Linked DNA regions of Homo sapiens: region 1 is linked to region 2. A link means that fine-mapping ties the variant in region 2 to the expression of a gene that starts in the linked region. Tissue or cell type: whole blood. Region 2 holds a variant in brackets; the other region holds the start of a gene. All regions are shown on one strand. Distances are between the middles of the regions.

The links. PIP is the estimated chance that this variant, and not a neighbour inherited with it, causes the effect.
Region 1: MED25 starts here. The variant in region 2 is fine-mapped to the expression of MED25 in whole blood (TOPMed, PIP 0.97).

Annotation. Positions count from the first base shown.
Region 1 is chr19:49,815,938-49,821,719 of GRCh38, reverse strand. MED25 (mediator complex subunit 25) reads right to left here and starts at 3,431. Exons shown (of 18, transcript NM_030973.4): 1 at 3,245-3,431; 2 at 3,104-3,149; 3 at 2,424-2,548. The coding sequence starts at 3,378. RefSeq lists silencers at 3,223-3,382, 3,309-3,475 and an enhancer at 3,513-3,872.
Region 2 is chr19:49,853,597-49,859,070 of GRCh38, reverse strand. PTOV1 (PTOV1 extended AT-hook containing adaptor protein) reads right to left here. Exons shown (of 12, transcript NM_001394010.1): 2 at 4,528-4,665; 3 at 4,337-4,419; 4 at 4,183-4,240; 5 at 3,994-4,101; 6 at 1,941-2,096; 7 at 1,289-1,378; 8 at 1,094-1,167; 9 at 957-1,014; 10 at 418-522. MIR4749 (microRNA 4749) reads right to left here and starts at 4,480; the gene lies at 4,420-4,480. It overlaps PTOV1-AS2 (PTOV1 antisense RNA 2), which reads left to right. Exons shown (of 5, transcript NR_110730.1): 2 at 1-228; 3 at 445-517; 4 at 644-724; 5 at 1,999-2,606. RefSeq lists enhancers at 2,749-2,798, 2,829-2,888, 5,073-5,132. The variant C/G (reference allele first, on the strand shown) is at 3,881.

The sequences.
Region 1 (5,782 bases), 38 kb after region 2:
CTCAGCCTCCCAAGAGCTGGGATTACAGGCATGCGCCACCATGCCCAGCTAAGGCCTGTAATTTCAGCACTCCAGCACTTAGGGAGGTCAAGGCAGGATGATTGCTTGTATTTTTAGTAGAGGCAGGGTTTCACCATGTTGGACAGGCTGGTCTCGAACTCCTGACCTCAGGTGATCCACCTGCCCCAGCCTCCCAAAGTGCTGGGATTACAGGCGTGAGCCACCACGCCCGACCTACAAAAATATTTTTAAGAAATCAGCCAGGTGTGCTGGCATTTGGCTACCGTCCCTGCTACTCCAGCTACTCGGGAAGCTGAGATGGGAGGATCGCTTGAGCTTGAGCCCAGGAGGTCGAGGCTGCAGTGAGCCGTGACTGAGCCACTGCACTCCAGCCTGCGTGACAGAGTGAGACCCTTCCTCAAAAACAAGAGAGGCCTGGGGCTTCCTCTTTGCTCTCTCTATTGGGTCCCTCAATCTGAGGAATGCCAGTTGCCATGTTAGACAGTCAACCAGCCCTGTGGAGAGGTCTTGTGGCCAACAGCCACAGACTCGCCACCTTGGGAACGGATTCCCCACCACCAGTCAAACCCCTGGATGGCTGCAATCCTGCCGACCTCCTGACTATTGCCTTGTGAGACCCTCAGCCCAACCATCCAGCCAAGCCACTCTTGTGTCCTTGACTCACAGAAACTGCGTTAGATAATAAATGTTTGCAGTATGCAGCCATTATTTGGTGGTAATCTATTATACAGCTAAGAATAAGTAATACAATGAAATACTAATACAAGTACTATCCACATCCCCACTTCACAAGTGAGATACTAGGCACAGAGGGGACAGACTCCTGGGTCTGAGAGTTAGTTCTGTGCTGGAAGAGCCAGGATTTAACCCGTCTGCCTGACTCCAGACTCTACAATGTCAACTATCAAAATCCGATCCAGCGCCAGGCGTGGTGGTGAGGCAGGAAATTAAAGAAAAAAAATTAAAAAGAGAAATAAGTTCTATGTATTAGGCTGACTTGTCTGAGAGGCAGCAATGGGCACAGCCCAGACCCAGGAAAAGTCTTGATAATACTATCTAAAGTGCTCTTGGAGACTCTCCCAGCACTCCCTCAACATAGAGAGAAGAAAAAACAAATTTTCCTTTGTTTTATGGAATGAGTTTATAGATTCCTGTTCTCTGTAACTCATGACTTCAAGTATTCTGTTTTATCTAAGAAGTACAGCGAAGGTCATGAGAAGCCTGAGCTGCCTGGGCACCACAGTGAAGGTTATGGGATAAGCCCGTGCCTAGGCTAACCTAGATAAGGGACATCTGGGTTGCATAGCAACGGTTATGTGCAATCCTGAGTTATAAACCTGTTACAACAATTTGATTAACTGTTTTTGTTCTGCCTCTGTATCCCTGCTGTCACGCCACTGTAAGCTTGCTTCAAGCTAGCCCACCCCCTTTTGTGAAGTGTGTATAAAAGTCAAGTGCTACCTTTGTTCTGGGCCGTCTTTGGACGTGAGTCGGCTTGGGCCTGAGTGCACTCAATGAAAGATTCTCCTGCTTTAACCCGAGGGCTCTCTCCTGTCGTCCTGAATCCCGCAACAGTGGCTCACCCCTATAATCCCAGCACTTTGGGAGGCTGAGGCAGGCAGATCACATGAGGTCAGGAGTTTGAGACCAGCCTGGCCAACACAGTGAAACTGTCTCTACTAAAAATACAAAAAAAAAAAAAAAAATTAGCTGGGCATAGTGGCGTGTGCCTGTAATCCCAGCTACTTGGGAGGCTGAGGCAGAAGAATCGCTTCAACCCAGGAGGTACAGGTTGCAGTGAGCCACGACTGTGCCACTGCACTACAAGCCTGGGAGACAGAGCAAGACACTGTTTCAAAAAAAAAAAAAAAAATTCTGACCCAAGCCACAGAGGGATCTATCCTGGCTCTGACCCATCCCCCTGCACTGAGGCTACAATGTACCCATCTGGAAAAGGAGGACAGGGGTAGACGGAAAAAGAGAGGACAGAAAGGGGACAATCACACAGGGAGTACAAGGTGGCTGCTGGAGCTCAGCCAGGCCTCCCTGAATGGGAAGGTTTTTCCTACTTCTAAACTGATGGCAACATTGCTGAGCACACAGAAGCCACCACAAAAGTGACTTCTGACAAAAACACAATCACCCTCAAAGTCCTTTCAATCCCTTAATGTATGAGATGTTTCCTGCAGCTCAAACCCAAGCCATCGCTCATTCACGGCCCCTCGCAGGGACCCCAACCACCCCAAGCCATTACTTATTCACAGCCCCTCACGGGGACACCAACCACCCCAAGCCATCACTTATTCACAGCCTCTCACGGGGACACCAACCACCCCAAGCCATCACTCATTCACGGCCCCTCACAGGGACCAGCAACCCACCCCAAGTGGGGGAAAGCTCACTTAATGCCATCGAGCCAGGTGACAAACTCATAGGCGCTGCTGGTGGGAGCGTGACATTGTACGTAGGACTCGGGAGCGCAGTCCACTGTGTTGAACACCACGAGGCTGTACTGGGTCCCCCCATACTGGGAGGGGAGGACAGAAAACTTTTAATCTGGGACCTCAATTCCCTTTTCCCTTAGAGAAGGAATCAGGGCTCCCAGCTTCCCGTTCCTCCAGAACCAGGAACTCCTCAGCTTCCTCCTTCCTCAGACCCAGCAATCTCGGCCCCAGCCCCTTCTCCCTCAGACCCAGGAATCCAGGCCCCCGGCCCCTCCTCCCTCAGACCCAGGAGCCCAGGCCCCAGCACCTCCTCCCTCAGACCCAGGAATCCAGGCCTCAGCTCCTCCTTTCTCAGACCCAGCAGTCCAGACGCCCAGCCCTTCCTCCCTCAGACCCAGGGATCTGGGCCCCTAGCTCCCTCCTCCCTCGGACCCAGGAATCCGGGCCCCAGCGCCTCCACCCTCAGACCCAGGAGTCCAGGCCCCCAGGCCCTCCTCCCTCAGAACAAGGAGTCCAGACCCCCAGCCCCTCCTCCCTCAAACTCAGGAGTCCAGGCCCAGCCCTTTCTCCCTCCCTCAGACCCAGGAGTCCAGGCCCCCGGCCCCTCCTCCCTCAGGCCCAGGAGTCCCTAGACTCACGTCTCCCCCGAAGTCCGTCTCAGCAGGAGGACCACCATTAAAATACCTGTGAGGGTAGGAAGTGAAAGGTCGGAGTCAGGCAAGAAACTGTGCGAAACTGAAGTGGGAGGGCGGGGTTAGAGTCGCGGAAACAGCACTCACTCGATGGCCGGGAGCAGGTAGTGCTTGCGGAGCCCCTCGAAGTAGGGTCCCAGGTTGGCCGTACCCTCAATCACAAACACCACGTCGGCCACCACGCTCCCGGCGCGGGCCGGGCCCTCGGACCCGGGGACCATACCCCGTGCGGTACCCGCCACCACCACTGCAGCCGCAGCCGACGCCGCGGAATGAGCAGAAATGCGCCTGCGCCGCGCGCGCGCTCGCGTCGGGCGGTTTAGGGCTGCTGGGAATGCTGCCATGTTTGTGCGGGGCACGCGCTGAGGCTTCGTTCTAGCTCCATCCTCCTTCGCCCCCACCGCGTGGAAGACTCAGAAAGGGCATAGTTAGCCCTTCTAGGGGCCTGATGGGTTAGACGGAATTATTGTCAAAAGCTAAATAAATTGAAAGCGGCTCAGTCAGCCGCCATCTTTGAGCGGGGCGTCCAGGTCCGCCTCTTGTCTCAAAGGGAGGGGCAGGAGACCTGGTTGCTATGCAACGCGTACGCTGCCCTTGTTTTCGTTTTTGTGTTTTGTTTTTTGTTTGTTTGTTTTTTCGAAACGGGAGTCTCGCCCTGTCGCCCAGGCTGGAGTGCAGTGGCGCGATCTCGGCTCACTACAACCTCCGCTTCCCGGGTTCAAGCGATTCTCCTGCCTCAGCCTCCCGAGTAGCTGGGATTACAGGTGCCCGCAACCACGCCCCGCTAATTTTTGTATTTTTAGTAGAGAAAGAGTTTCACCCTGTGGGCCAGGCTGTTCTCGAACTCCTGACCTCAAGTGATTCGCCCGCCTTGGCTTCCCAAAGTGCTGAGATTACAGGCGTGAGCCACCGCGCCGGGCCCGCTGCCCTTGTTTTGTAACCGTTAGATTAAGTTTCTGGTTCTGTTCTTTCGGGCGTGGGGACTAGGGGAGGGACGCGAGAAGGATCCAATCACATCGGCGGAAACGAGGTTACTAGGCGACGCTTTAAGGTCGTCCTCAACTTGGAAGGGAGGGCAGTTGTTTTCCCCCCCGAAAAGAAGCCGAACACCAAACCAAGTGCGGGTTGCTAAGCAACACCTGAGCGTTGTTTTCTGGGAGAGGAGCCAGAAACTGGCTTAGAACGTAAATACATTCCAGGTGGATTAAAAATGTAAGTGCAACAAATGAAACCCGAAAACTATCTGAAGGGAAAAAATCTTAATGACTGCCATGGAGTTTCTTAGCACTACAGCAAAGTTAGAAAACGTAGTCTTCATTAATTTTTCCCAAAAGACTGTATAAACCAAGTTGAAAAATATACGGCCAACTGGGAAAATCTTTCTAGCGTGTTTGTTGACAGAAATGTACTACGCAAATAAATCTTACTGATGAATAACAATATAGAAAAATAGAAACACTTCATTACTATTATCTTTTAATTTTAATTTTTATTTTTTGAGGCAGGGTCTCTTTCTGTTGTGCAGGTTGAAGTGCAGTGGCCCAATCTTGGCTCACGGCAGCCTCTACTCGCACTGGAGCCACTCTTCAGCCTGTGGAGCAGCTGGGACCACAGCCGCGCACTACCACTTCCAGCTAATTTTTAAATTTTTTGTAGAGATGGGGTCTCACTGTGTTGCTCTGGCGTGTCTCAAACTCCTCGGCTAAAGCGATCCCAGGTGTTAGCCATCGTGCCCTGCCACTTTATATTTGTTTTAATAGAAAGAAACCTGACCAGGGCCGGACGCCGTGGCTCACGCTTGTAATCCCAGCACTTTGGGAGGCCAAGGCGGGCAGATCACCCGAGGTAAGGGGTTCAAGACCAGCCTGGCCAACATGGTGAAACTCCTTCTAACTACTAAAAATAAAAAAATTAGCCGTCCTGGTGGGCGTCTGTAATCCCAGCTACTTGGGAGGCTGAGTCAGGAGATTCTCCTGAACCCGGGAGGCGGAGGTTGCAGTCAACTGAGATTGTGCCACTGCATTCCAGCCTGGGCGGCAGAGTTAGACTCCGTCTCAAAAAAAATAAAAATAAATAAATAAAAAGAAACCTGACTAGTTTCACACAAACACACACACAAAATTTTGAATGGCCAGTAAATATTTTAAAACATAATCTTCGGCCGGGCGAGATGGCTCATGCCTGTAATTCCAGCACTTTGGGAGGTAGAGGCGGGCGCATCACGAGGTCAGTATCACTGGGCGTCGTGGTGCCCACCTGTAATCCCAGCAACTCGAGAGGCTGAGGCAAGGAGAATCGCTTGAACCCGGGAGGCAGAGGTTGCAGTGAGCCGAGATCACGCCACTGCACTCCAGCCTGGGCGACAGAGCGAGACTGTCTCAAAAAAAAAACAAAAAAAACAAAAAAAACAGGCCGGGCGCAGTGGCTCATGCTTGCAATCCCAGCACTTTGGGAGGCCAAGGCGGGCAGATCACGAGGTCAGGAGATCGAGACCATCCTTGCTAACACGGTGAAACCCCGTCTCTACTGAAAATCCAAAAAAAAAAAAAAAAAAATTAGCGGGGCGTGGTGGCGGGCGCCTGTAGTCCCAGCTACTCCGGAGGCTGAGGCAGGAGAATGGCGTGA
Region 2 (5,474 bases):
AGAGGAGTCAGCTGAGCCTCCCCCAGATAAGACAATCGCCAAATATTCTGGGACCTTGCTGGGGGCAGACAGCCCTCCCTGCCCAGCAATGGGCCTTTGGGATGTGGCACAAGCTCCCGGGAAACCAGGAGTGACAAGGGCGCCTGTCCCTGAGGAGTGGAGAGCGCGGAGTTGGTGCTGAGTCAGCCCTGATGTGGCAGAGGAGGAGCAGGCCCCCGCAGAACCAGGGTCAGTGCCCCATCCAGTGCCGTGGGGACAGCACAGAGCCCCCAGAAGTCACGCCCACACTAGCCACCCTCTCTCCCCAGCTGGTCTGGGACATGGTGCTCTGTTCCTCTCCCATGTCCGCCCCCGTGAGCGGTCCGGGCTCGCTCTGCCCTGGCCGGCCCCTCCCCTGCGTCTGCTGGCACCACTCACGAAGCCATTGTCCATGATCCGGCACAGGCTCTTCAGTGTCTCCAGGTCCTTGGTGAAGTGGAACTGGACCAGGCGCGAGTTCCGGAACAGCGGCACTAGGGTGGTCTGCGGGGAAGCGAGGGGACCCCCAGCTCTGGCTTCTCCCACCACGGCCTCCCGGCTCCCAGCCCGCTGAGTCCCCCGGGCCCAGGACCAAACTGAGACTCCCCTGTCCTCCCTACCTCAGGAAACGTCATCTCCACCGCTCAACCAGCCCAACCCTGGAGTGCTGTGGAAGCCGCTCTCAGATCCCTTGGCAGCCCCCCAGGTGCAGGTCGTGGCTGCCCCTGCCCCGCTCAGTCCCTGCACAGCCACCAGCTGGCTGCCTGGGACCCCTTGAAGCCAAGCCTGAGGAGCTACCCACCACACCTGCTTCAGCACCCTCAGCTCCGCTCCCTCACAGCCAGCTCAGGCCACCTGGGGAGGCGCTCTTGCCCCCAGCCCCGCCCTCTGGAAGAGCTACTGCGTGCAGGCTCCAGCACCCGGCCCCAGCCCCTCACCAGCAGCTGCTGCGGGATGAGCTGCATGTACAGCTTCCTTGGCCACTGCTCGGTCCTCCTGTGGGGCACAAAGGGACGAGGGTCAGGAAGCCCCAGCTCCCCTGGATGCTGCCTCCACCCCCCAGCCCAGCACTCACAGGATCTCCCCCTGGTTCACGTAGACGTGGGATGGCAGCCACCTCTTGGACCGACTGTTGGGCTCAGGCCTGGGCTTTTGGGGGAGAGGCAAAGAGGAGCCCTCAGGGCTGGAGACCCCCAATGCCAGTGTCCCCTCCCAGCCACAGTCCGTGAGGATCTGGGGGTCCCAAGTCCCTGGGCTGCCGAGTGCTCACCTCCTGCCACTCCATGACACCACTCCATGCCAGAAACTTGTTGTTGACGATCTGGACTGGGCCTGAGTTGACACCACCAGGTCCCACTGCCTGTTGGAAGGGAACGGGGTGGGAAGAGGGGCCCAGGCTCCTGGGAAACCTGTCTGTCTGTCCTGGGGCCTGCCATCCCTCCCTCCGAGCCTTGGCCTGTTAGCCCCAGCTGGGTCCATTCTCTAGTCCCAGGGGAACAGGCCCTGCCCCTCATCTGCTCACAGCCCCCCATGGCTCCCCAGTGGCCTGAGACAGGTCCCGGCCCTCACCTGGTGCACAGGACCTGCAGAGTCTGCCTCAACTGGCAAGGCATGACCAGGACACGTGGTTACCAGGCAGGGCCTTCCAGCCGCAGGACGATCCCAACCCCTGCCCAGCTCCCCGCTCCGCTGGCTTCCCTGCCGCCGCGCCAAGACCCACCCTCCAGCCCTGCAGAGCCGCCCAGTGGCCGCTTTTCCATGGAGCCCTGGTGGGAACCCGCCCGGCATCCTCCGGGCTCCCCTGCAGCTCCTTGCTCCAGCCATCGCATCACACTCCGCCCACACCAAGTCTGGCTGCCCAACCAGGGCAGTGGGGTCTAATCCCCCTCTGTCCCCAGAGGGGCTGTGCTTGGCTGGCACACCTGCTTGCGGGTGGTGATGACCTGCCGGATGGCACTGACGAAGCCGCTCTGGTCGTAGGGGATGAGGCCCATGAAGATCTTCTTCTTGGACGAGTACAGGAGCATGAGCACGCGCACCTCACAGGGGGAGATGTGGGGGAACAGCATGCAGCCCGCCTGCGGGGGCCGCGGGTCAGGACCCTGTGGTCACTGCCCGGGGCCACTGTGCCCCCACCACCCTGGACCGCCCCACCTGTAGGGGATGAAGGGAGATCATCGGTGGACAGAGGCCCCCACAGTCAAGGCCATGGCCATAGGTGAGGGGCCTCTGAGAGCCCGTGCAGCGCCCATCGGCATCCCCCGACCCTGCCATGGCTGAGGTCAGAGTGGCACCCGGCACCCAGGCTGCGGTGAGAATGCCAAGAAGGCACTACCTCCCACCCACATCACCCCCTGCCGCCAGCCCTCCTGACTGCCTGATGGGGTGACTTGGCCTGGGGGTTAAGAGCACAGGCAGCGCCCCACCGTTCTGCTGCCTCCTAGCTGTGTGACCTAACACCAGCCACCTCCTGCTTCTGGGCCTCCATCATCTGTAAAACCGGGTAATAGTGCACACAGTTGGTGCCACATAAAGGCTCAACAGATAAAGTGCTGGTGCCTCTTGAGGATGGCGCATGGGAGAACTAAGCCTGACAGATGTGCCTGGCTGTGGTGTCTAGATGAAGTGGTGTGACCGTCCCAAAACCCCATGTCCCCTCCCCACACCGGGCCACCCCCACAGTGCTGTCCCCTCCACGCTGCCGGCCTAACTTCTCAACCTTGGTGTCCAGCCCAGGGATCACCCGCTCAGGGCCCTGTCCCTGGCCTCCCTGGAGCCATGCACAGTCAGCCTCCCAGGGCCATGCCTGGGGGGTGAGTATGGATGTCCACTTTCCCTACAGACTGGGTACTCGGGGCCCAGATATGGCAGGCCCTCAACAAACGGTGCTGGGTGAAGGGGGAACGGGTCACTTAAGAGACCTCATGCCAGGCACAAGCCCTGGTCTGCCCCTGGTCTCCTGAGGGAGAAGGGAGGCCCTAGCGGAACCCAGGGCGCTCAACGGCAGCTGGGACGGGTAGAGGCAGACTGTCCCAACAGGGAACAGGGACTGGGAATGTCCCAGAGCCAGGTCCTCTGGGCAGACAACTCGCTCCCACCCCACCCCTGCCTCCTCTCCAGCACCTGCCATCTTTCACAGCCCAAGCCCCCTTTCTGACCTGCCCTGCGCCAGAATCTCAGTCACCTGAACAGCCTCACCAGCTGGGTTCACCCAGCACTCACTAGGTACTAAAGTCACCATCTCAAGCGCTTTACACAAATTCCCTCCCTCCAGCCTCCCGGTGGCCCTAGGAAGCACGGCTCCCCTGTCCTCCCTACCTCAGAAAATGTCATCTCTACCCCTCAACCAGCCCAACCCTGGAGTGCTGCGGAAGCCGCTCTCAGATCCCTTGGCAGCCCCCCGGGTCCAGGTCATGGCCGCGCCTGCCCCACTCAGTCCCTGCACAGCCACTGGCTGGATACCTGGGTCCCCTTGGAGCCAGGCCTGAGGACCTACTCACCGCGCCTGCTTCAGCACCCTCAGCTCTGCTCCCTCACGGCCAGCTCAGGCCACTCGGGGAGGTTAGCCCATTTTACAGACCAGAATACCAAGCCCCAACGTGCCACTCCCTCCTGGCTGGCTCTTGTGCCTAGCACACCCATTTACCAGGTCCCTGCCATACGCTATGTGTCCCCGACAGGCTCCTGGGCCCCAACAGGGCTGGCCCCAGTCCCTCCCTGCACTCACGCCCCCAGGGCCACCTCGAAGCTGGGCACAGATGCAGAAACTGGAGGCCTCTCAGGCTGAGTTCCTTCACCCTGTGCTCTACGGAGGGTGCCTGGAGTCAGTCATTTCCAGATGGGGTCCGAGAGGCCACGAGGG[C/G]TACCCTCGGCCCCAGGGGAGACCCCCCGACCCCCGCCTGGACTGTGTGAGCAGAGCGCTGCCTCCAGCTGTACTTGTCACCACAGTGCTACAAGGGAGCCCGCCCCACTCACGAAGCCGTTGCCCATGATGCGGCAGAGCCCCTTGAGCGAGTCGCAGTCTCTGTTGGTGAAGTGGAACTGTGCCAACTGGGAGTTCCGGAACAGGGGGCCCAGGGTGGTCTGGGGGCGACAGGACAGACAGCTGGGTCAGCCAGGCATGGGGGTGCTCAGAGTGGATGGGGTGGGAGGGGCGGGTCTCACCAGCAGCTGCTGAGGGATCAGCTGCATGATCAGCTTCTGCGGCCACTGGTCGGTCTCCCTATGGGAAGGAGCTGGTCAGAAAGGGCTGCCCTGATCCCCACGGCCACAGCCACTGCCCCTGCCACCGCCCTGGCTGCCACGCCCCGGCACTCACAGGTTCTCGCCTTGGTTCACGTAGGCTTGGCAGGGCAGGGTCCGCTTCAGCTTTGCAGTGGAGTCAGAGTAGGGTCTGCGCTTCTGTGGGGGCAGGAGGGGCGTCACTGTGCACAGCCTAGATGCCCTGGCCTGTCCCCGCAGGGACAAGACAAGACCCTGGAGGCCAGCCGCAGCCCCACAGAGACTCACCTCCTGCCACTCGAGGACGCCGCTCCAAGCCAGCAGCTTGTTGCTGAGCCGGTGCTCGCTCACGGCCAGACCCCCGAGGGTGAGCCCAGGTGAGGAGGGACCGATGGGACCCAGTGCCCCGAAGACCCGAGCACCTTCCTGCAATGGAGTGGGGGATAGGTGGGAAAACTGAGGCCGGGGCCTGCAAGGACAGGCAGTCCCCACACACCCCAGAGGGGACGTCCCAATATTCAGCCCCAAATCCCCTGCTGGAAGCCCACGGGGCCATGTCCAAACCCTCTGCTCACCCCTCAGGACCCCCACACGCTGGTCCTCATGTCCTTTCCCGCTGCCCACCCTCAGGACCCTTCCTTCCCAGAGCCTGCTGTCACCTTGACACTGGCCCAGCAGAGTCCTGAAGCCTTCAGCCAGCCCCACCTCCAGCCTTTGCCCCAGCTGTGCGCCTGATCGATTCTTGAGACCCAAGTTAGAAGCCAGCTGTAGGGGGCTTTCCCCGTGCCCCAGGCTGGGCCCAGGGCTTCCTTGCAGCCTCCACAGGCACAAGCCGGCTTGCGCTGTGTCTGTCCCACACACCAGCTTGCCCTGTCTTTCCCAGGCTGAAACTCTCCTAAAGCTCCCTGTCATCCCAAAGTTCAATTCCTTCCTCTGGCTCAGGCCAGTGCCCACCTCTCTGGCCTTATAAGTCTGACCCCGGGGGGAGGCAGGAAGGAGATGACAAGAAACACAGAGGGGACTAAACCATCCAGGAGAAAGACAGCGAGGAAAAGGGGGAAACATTTGGAAGACAGCTGGGACACCACCCCCAGAGGGGTCTCACAGACCAAAACATGTAGAACACCAAGAGAAAGTTCTAGCAATAAAGCCAAGCAACGCCACAAATGCTACTCACAGGCACTCTCCCCACTATTTTTATTACTATTTTTTTTTTGAGACAGAGTTTCACTCAT